2 linked regions of the Homo sapiens genome follow. The protein of the gene in region 1 purifies or fractionates together with the protein of each later gene. This does not show direct contact. Each region holds a gene or a part of one and is shown in the gene's direction. Other genes may lie near its edges.

Region 1 (3,820 bases):
TATAGATGTTTTATTTGGTTCACATTTTTATCTTGGTTCACAATGTCTTTGGCCTGTTGTCATATTTTTCTCCTCCTACCCCTGCTCTGCTACCTTTTTATCTGGTTGTCTGGATCTTCTCCAGGTTGGGGCCTTTTATATGACTATTTCTTAAAGTGTAATGACCAAAAGATAAATACAGAATTCTTGCTGTAGGTGTATCTCACCTTTAAGAATAGGTCTGGGTGACACAAGGGCTGGGGAGGAAAAAAAGAATAGGACAAAGTTTTCTGTCTTGTTTCCAATATCTCTTGCGGTGGCAATTCCTTGGTTGGCCTCATGGCTTTTTGTTATGGTCACTGCTCCTCAAATTTTTATATTTCTTCAGAATTTTGGCTTTGGATTGAGTTTGGGTTCAAGAGGTAGAGCTCAAAATTATAATTTAAATTCATGATGAGTCCATGCTGCTCTTAATCCGAACCTTTAACACAAATCTCTGCAAATATTAAGATACGCCACGTCTTATCTTGTTACTGCCCCTTTCCCACCAATACCAGGACCCTAAGAATATAATCTATGTCAATGTTCTGTTCTCTGATAGTTCAGATCCCTTTTTGATACAGTCAGATTATTTAGTCCTCATCCTAAATGTAGCATCCAACTTAGGTGGGGAAATATTCAAAGCTGTGAGAATATAGCACTAGTTCTTAAAGTGTTGGACTCATGAGGAATTCCTTAGGAGACAAACTGCATAGTAAAGGATAGAGGTTGAGCGTCCCTAATCCAGAAATCCAAAATCGGAAATGTTCCAAAATCTGAAACTTTTTGAGCACCAATATGACATTACAAGTTACCCTGAACACACTGTATTAATGGTATGTCATATTTTCTGCTTTTAAGTACTTATGTGTGAAAAAGTAAGAAAATAACTGCCTATCAGTAGCATATAAATTCAGAGTCAGGAAGATGGTGATGCCAAACAATCATATTGTCCACATGGGTGGCTGTGATAGTGACACCTTTGTTTTCTGATGGTTTAATGCACACAAACTTTGTTTCATGCACAAGATGATTTAAAATATTATATAAAATTACCTTCAGGCTATGTGTATAAAGTGTGTATGAAACACAAGTTTTGTGTTTAGACTTGAGTTCCATCCCTAAGATATCTCAATATATATATAATGCAAATATTCCAAAATCTGAAAAAAATAAAAAATCTAAAACACTTCTGGTCCCAAGCCTTTGGATAATGGGTACTCAACCTGTACAAACTTTGGAGCCAGATGGCCTAGATTTGGATCCTGATTCTGGCACTTAATAGCTGTGTAACTTGGGCGGTTACTTCTCTTTGCTTCAGTTTCCTCATCCACCAAATAGGCACATTTTAGTTGCCTCACACAACTGTTTTGAGTCTTAAATAAGAATTTATGTTAAGCAGCTAGAACAATGCCTGGGATCTTGTAAATAATCAATAAATATTAGATATTTCTTTTAGGATGTTTCAGATTGGCTATTTATAAAAGTTTATAATATGTGAATTTCTTGGCCAGGCAGGTGGCTCATGCCCATAATCCCAGCACTTTGGGAGGATGAGGCGGGAGGATCAGTTGAGGTCAGAAGTTTGAGACCAGCTGGGGCAACATAGCAAGACCCCATTTCTACAAAAAGAAAGTTTAAAAAAATGAGACTCTCTTTGTGTATTTTTTTGCTAAATTAATAGTACTTAATTTCCTTTAAAATTGTTGGTTCTTAATTTTCTTTAAGATTGTTGGTTCTTTTTGATATTTTATTTCTACTCTATCACTCCAGGATATCTGAGGTCTAATGGTTAACCATTTTTTTATTGTTGGGTTAAGTCAATCGATATCTCTTAGTTTCAGTTTCCAACATCTGCAAAACTGTTCATAATAGGATCGAGATAATCTTCCCACAATCATTTGACATTTTAAATTTTACTGTGACAAAATGATTATGATGTGTACTTTGTCACGTATTATCATTGTGGCCCAGGCTAGTTAAGAGTTGGAGATAGCACAGAAAATTCATCTTGTCATCCCTCATTTGCTTCCAGGCTGCCACCTAAAAGACTTTGGAGATTTGAGTTTTACTCCAGTCCCCAAAGATGATCTCTACAACAACCTGATAGTGAATCCACGCTCAGTGGGTCTTGCCAACCAGGAACTGGCTGAGGTGGTTAGCAGAGCTGTGTCAGATGGCTACAGCTGTGTCACACTGGGAGGAGACCACAGGTAAGCTGGGAGCCAGGCGTGGTGAGGGGATGGATTACATGGTGCTTGGGGCTCATAACTTAGCTTCTTTATCTGTTTCTTCATCTGGAGAAAAATACCCTACAGAATTTTTAGGGTAGATATTAAAATGAACAGCAAGCATTTAAATGTCTAAGATCCTGAGCTGCTCAAGGGGCACTGTGGTTTTCTTTGTATGACACATTGCACAGTAAGAATATGTACATTCAGACACAGCAAGTTCAGAGGTATACTAGGCAAGGTTCCTAGGCACTGTGTTAACATGCTTGTCTCCTGGAAAGCTTTCTTGAGACTTATCTTATGACTTTGGAGAATTAGAAAGATCCATTGATAGGCTGAATGTGCAAGTTTTTGTTAGCATTTCTGCTAATAGACCTGTTAGAAATCCCCTTTGGCATGTTACTACATTTTCTTTTTTTTTTTTTTTTTTTTTTTTTTTGAGATAGGGTCTGGCTCTGTTGCCCAGGCTGGAGTACAGTGGCATGATCTCAGCTCACTGCAACCTCTGCCTCCTAGGCTCAAGCCATCTTCCTACCTCAGCCTCCCAAGTAGCTGGGACTACAGGTGCATGCCACCATGCCTGGCTCATTTTTGTATTTCTTGTAGAGACAGGGTTTGGCCATGTTGCCCAGACTGGTCTCGAACTCCTGAGCTCAAGCGATCCTTCTGCCAAGGCCTCCCAAAGTGCTGGGATTACAGGCATGAGCCACTGTGCCCAGCTGTGGATACATTTTCTGCCTCCACAATATGGACCCTAGTGACTCATGCAATCAGTCCTTTGATCCTGTCTCCTCCTGAATCAGCATGTACTTTATTGAGCACTGTTCTGATATTTTCTCAGCAGTGCTAGAGATTGCAGGAAATTTGTGATATATTAAGGCCTAGATGAAATAAATATACATGGAATAAACAAAAATATTGAATTCTACAGAATTTCAAAGGAGGAAGAGATCAGTCTGGACTAAAATAGATTTCACAAGGGAATGTGATTTGAAATAAGCAATGAAGGTCTTCAGTAGGAAGAAGGCACTGAAGTACTAGGAGTATTGAGCACTCCATACATATTCTCAGTTAATTCTGCTAACAATGCTAGGTGGTAGATATGGTTTTATCATTTACTGCTGGAAGCATGTAGGGACAGATATATAAGAACTTATCCAAGGTGGGCACAGTGGTGCATGCCTGCAGGCCCAGCTACTCAGGAGGCCAAGGTGGGAGGATTGCTTGAGCCCAGGAGTTTGAGGCCAGTCTGGGCAACACAGTGAGATCAGGTCTCTTAAAAATAAATAAATAAGAAAGAAAATATAACTTATCCAAGGACTAGAACCAGGAAATAGAGCTGGGATTCAAATCCAGTGTGACTCTTCTGGTGATTATTTTCCCTGAGGTGCTGAGAAAGCTTTTCAGATCACTGAACAGAAATGAAATCTTTGTTACATCTGGAGAAGCAGGTAGATTCCTCCTTGGGAGTAAAAAAAAAAAAAAAAAAAAAAAAAAAAAAGACTCAGGTTGAAGAAAACGGTCACACCCAGGTTCCCTACTGAGATGACTAGGCCATTCAATTAAATCAA
Region 2 (3,820 bases), on another chromosome or scaffold:
ATTTTCGGCTTTTCAACTCAACTCGTTTACCCAAACCCAGTCGGGATGAACTCTTCACTGATGACAAGGCCAGACACCTCCTGGTCCTAAGGAAAGGAAATTTTTATATCTTTGATGTCCTGGATCAAGATGGGAACATTGTGAGCCCCTCGGAAATCCAGGCACATCTGAAGTACATTCTCTCAGACAGCAGCCCCGCCCCCGAGTTTCCCCTGGCATACCTGACCAGTGAGAACCGAGACATCTGGGCAGAGCTCAGGCAGAAGCTGATGAGTAGTGGCAATGAGGAGAGCCTGAGGAAAGTGGACTCGGCAGTGTTCTGTCTCTGCCTAGATGACTTCCCCATTAAGGACCTTGTCCACTTGTCCCACAATATGCTGCATGGGGATGGCACAAACCGCTGGTTTGATAAATCCTTTAACCTCATTATCGCCAAGGATGGCTCTACTGCCGTCCACTTTGAGCACTCTTGGGGTGATGGTGTGGCAGTGCTCAGATTTTTTAATGAAGTATTTAAAGACAGCACTCAGACCCCTGCCGTCACTCCACAGAGCCAGCCAGCTACCACTGACTCTACTGTCACGGTGCAGAAACTCAACTTCGAGCTGACTGATGCCTTAAAGACTGGCATCACAGCTGCTAAGGAAAAGTTTGATGCCACCATGAAAACCCTCACTATTGACTGCGTCCAGTTTCAGAGAGGAGGCAAAGAATTCCTGAAGAAGCAAAAGCTGAGCCCTGACGCAGTTGCCCAGCTGGCATTCCAGATGGCCTTCCTGCGGCAGTACGGGCAGACAGTGGCCACCTACGAGTCCTGTAGCACTGCCGCATTCAAGCACGGCCGCACTGAGACCATCCGCCCGGCCTCCGTCTATACAAAGAGGTGCTCTGAGGCCTTTGTCAGGGAGCCCTCCAGGCACAGTGCTGGTGAGCTTCAGCAGATGATGGTTGAGTGCTCCAAGTACCATGGCCAGCTGACCAAAGAAGCAGCAATGGGTGAGGCAGGGGTGGGGAGCATGCCCTTGGGTCTTGTCCTCAGTGCTTGGGTAAGCAAGCCTAAATCATTCTACTCCAAATCTGATTTCTACCCGTTCACTAGGTTTAATCCATCGCCAACTCCCCAAATTTTTCTTTTCTACCCTAGCAGTCTGAACAGCCACACTAGCCACTAGGGATCAGAATGTTCTTGCCTCCTAAGCAGGGGTGGGGAAATGCATGTGTCTTTGTCCTCATTTAAGGTCACTTTCAGCTGTGACGCATTAATTCTTTTTTCTTTCTTTTTTTTTTTTTTTTTTGGAGACAAGAGTTTCCCTCCGTCCAGGCTGGAGTGCAATGGCGTGATCTCGGCTCACTGCAACCTCCACCCCCAGGTTCAAGTGATTCTCCTGCCTCTGCCTCCCAAGTAGCTGGGATAATAGGCACCCGCCACTACACCTGGCTAGTTTTTGCATTTTTAGTAAAGAAGGGGTTTTGCCATTTTGGCCAGGCTGGTCTTGAACTCCTGACCTCAGGTGATCCATCCCTCTCAGCCTCCCAAAGTTCTAGGAATACAGGCGTGAGCCACCGCACCTGGCCTTTTTTTTTTTGGAGACACGGTCTCATTCTGTCACCCAGGCTGGAGTACAGTGGTGCAATCATGGCTCACTGCAACCTCAACTTCCTTGGCTCAAACAATCCTCCTGCCTCAGCCTCCCAAATAGCTGGGACTATAGGCATGCACCACCATGCCCAGCTGATATTTTAATTTTTTTTTTTTTTTGAGATGGACTCTTGCTCTGTTGCCCAGGCTGGAGTGCAGTGGCACAATCTCAGCTCACTGCAACCTCTGCCTCCTGGGTTCAAGCGATTCTCCTGCCTCAGCCTCCTGAGTAGTTGGGACTACAGGCTTATGCCACCATGCCCAGCTAATTTTTATATTTTCAATAGAGACGGGGTTTCACTATGTTGGCCAGGTTGGTCTCAAACTCCTGACCTCATGATCTACCCGCCTCACCCTCCCAAAGTGCTGGGATTATAGGCGTAAGCCACCATGCCGGGCCTAATTTTTAAAATTTTTTGTAGAGATGAGGTCCCACTGTATTGCCCAAGGTGGTCTCAAACTCCTGGGCTCAAGCAATCCTCCTGCCTTGGCCTCCCAAAGCACTAGGATTATAGGCATGCACCACTGCACCCAACCTTTTTCTATTACTGATTGGTTATCAGACTCACTTTTGAAAATTTAGGATTTCTAAACTTACGGCCCCACTAGCTTCACCTCAGTTGTAATGTGTCTGCTCTCTGTAAACAGGTTATCTCAGAAGCTCTTCTCAATTGTCATCCGTCATTACCTTTTTTTGATAAAATTCAAGACCTGGAAAGGACCTGGAGGGTCATAGTTGTCCTTTCATGTTGCTATGAAGTGCTGGAAGTGAAAGGGACCTCCAAGACATTCTAATCTTCTCTTCCTCCATTTTATAGGGAGAAAACCAAGCCACTGGCCCCGTTACACAGCAAGTTAGTAGTAAGACTGAGATTCGAACCCTGGTCAAACAGACTTTCCATTTTGTTCCACTGACTCAATCTTCTCTTTTACACTTGAATCAGACTTTTAGTTTTATTGTAGTTTTTGAGTCCATAGCTGTCTTCCTGTACTGTCTTGACTCTTTGACTAAACTGATTTCACATCTTTAAAATTATGCTTTCCTTTTAGGCTCATTTTTAGCTCAGCTGTTGACAGCTATTTTTAAATGTAACATGACATAATATATTTCCTAAATAATTTAAAATAATCTAGCTTGAGCTGCTCTGAAGGTTAGTCAGTTGGTGGTGTGCATAGAGGTAGAGCCTTCCCCCACTCTCAAGGATGCTGTGAGGGGTATTCCTACCATGTGGTGAGTTGGGAGGTTTTCCTGAGGTCCTTTTCCATCCTGAGACTCTGGTTTTCCATTTTGTTTCTCACAGGCCAGGGCTTTGACCGACACTTGTTTGCTCTGCGGCATCTGGCAGCAGCCAAAGGGATCATCTTGCCTGAGCTCTACCTGGACCCTGCATACGGGCAGATAAACCACAATGTCCTGTCCACGAGCACACTGAGCAGCCCAGCAGTGAACCTTGGGGGCTTTGCCCCTGTGGTCTCTGATGGCTTTGGTGTTGGGTATGCTGTTCATGACAACTGGATAGGCTGCAATGTCTCTTCCTACCCAGGCCGCAATGCCCGGGAGTTTCTCCAATGTGTGGAGAAGGCCTTAGAAGACATGTTTGATGCCTTAGAAGGCAAATCCATCAAAAGTTAACTTCTGGGCAGATGAAAAGCTACCATCACTTCCTCATCATGAAAACTGGGAGGCCGGGCATGGTGGCTCATGCCTGTAATCCCAGCATTTTGAGAGGCTGAGGCGGGTGGATCACTTGAGGTCAGGAGTTTGAGACCAACCTGGCCAACATGGTGAAACCTTGTCTCTACTAAAAATACAAAAATTAGCTGGGTGTGGTGGCATGTGCCTATAATCCCAGCTACTTGGGAGGTTGAAGCAGAATTGCTTGAACCCAGGAGGTGGAGGTTGCAGTGAGCTGAGATCACACCACTGCACTCCGGCCTGGGCGACAGAGCGAGACTGTCTCAAAAAAACAAAAAAGAAAAAAAAACTGGGGCCTGTGTAGCCAGTGGGTGCTATTCTGTGAAACTAATCATAAGCTGCCTAGGCAGCCAGCTACAGGCTTGAGCTTTAAATTCATGGTTTTAAAGCTAAACGTAATTTCCACTTGGGACTAGATCACAACTGAAGATAACAAGAGATTTAAGTTTTAAGGGCATTTAATCAGGAGGAAAGGTTTGGAAAAC

The links.
Region 2: the proteins of ARG2 (region 1) and CPT2 purify together in Homo sapiens (affinity purification with mass spectrometry, with the first as the bait; one large-scale study listed by BioGRID). This does not show direct contact.

What each region holds. Positions count from the first base shown.
Region 1 is NC_000014.9:67,640,133-67,643,952, forward strand, and holds part of ARG2 (arginase-2, mitochondrial precursor), read left to right. Parts: intron 1-2,053; coding exon 2,054-2,231; intron 2,232-3,820. UniProt on the Homo sapiens protein: May play a role in the regulation of extra-urea cycle arginine metabolism and also in down-regulation of nitric oxide synthesis. Extrahepatic arginase functions to regulate L-arginine bioavailability to nitric oxid synthase (NOS).
Region 2 is NC_000001.11:53,210,324-53,214,143, forward strand, and holds part of CPT2 (carnitine O-palmitoyltransferase 2, mitochondrial isoform 1 precursor), read left to right. Parts: coding exon 1-996; intron 997-2,940; coding exon 2,941-3,272; 3' UTR 3,273-3,820. UniProt on the Homo sapiens protein: Involved in the intramitochondrial synthesis of acylcarnitines from accumulated acyl-CoA metabolites.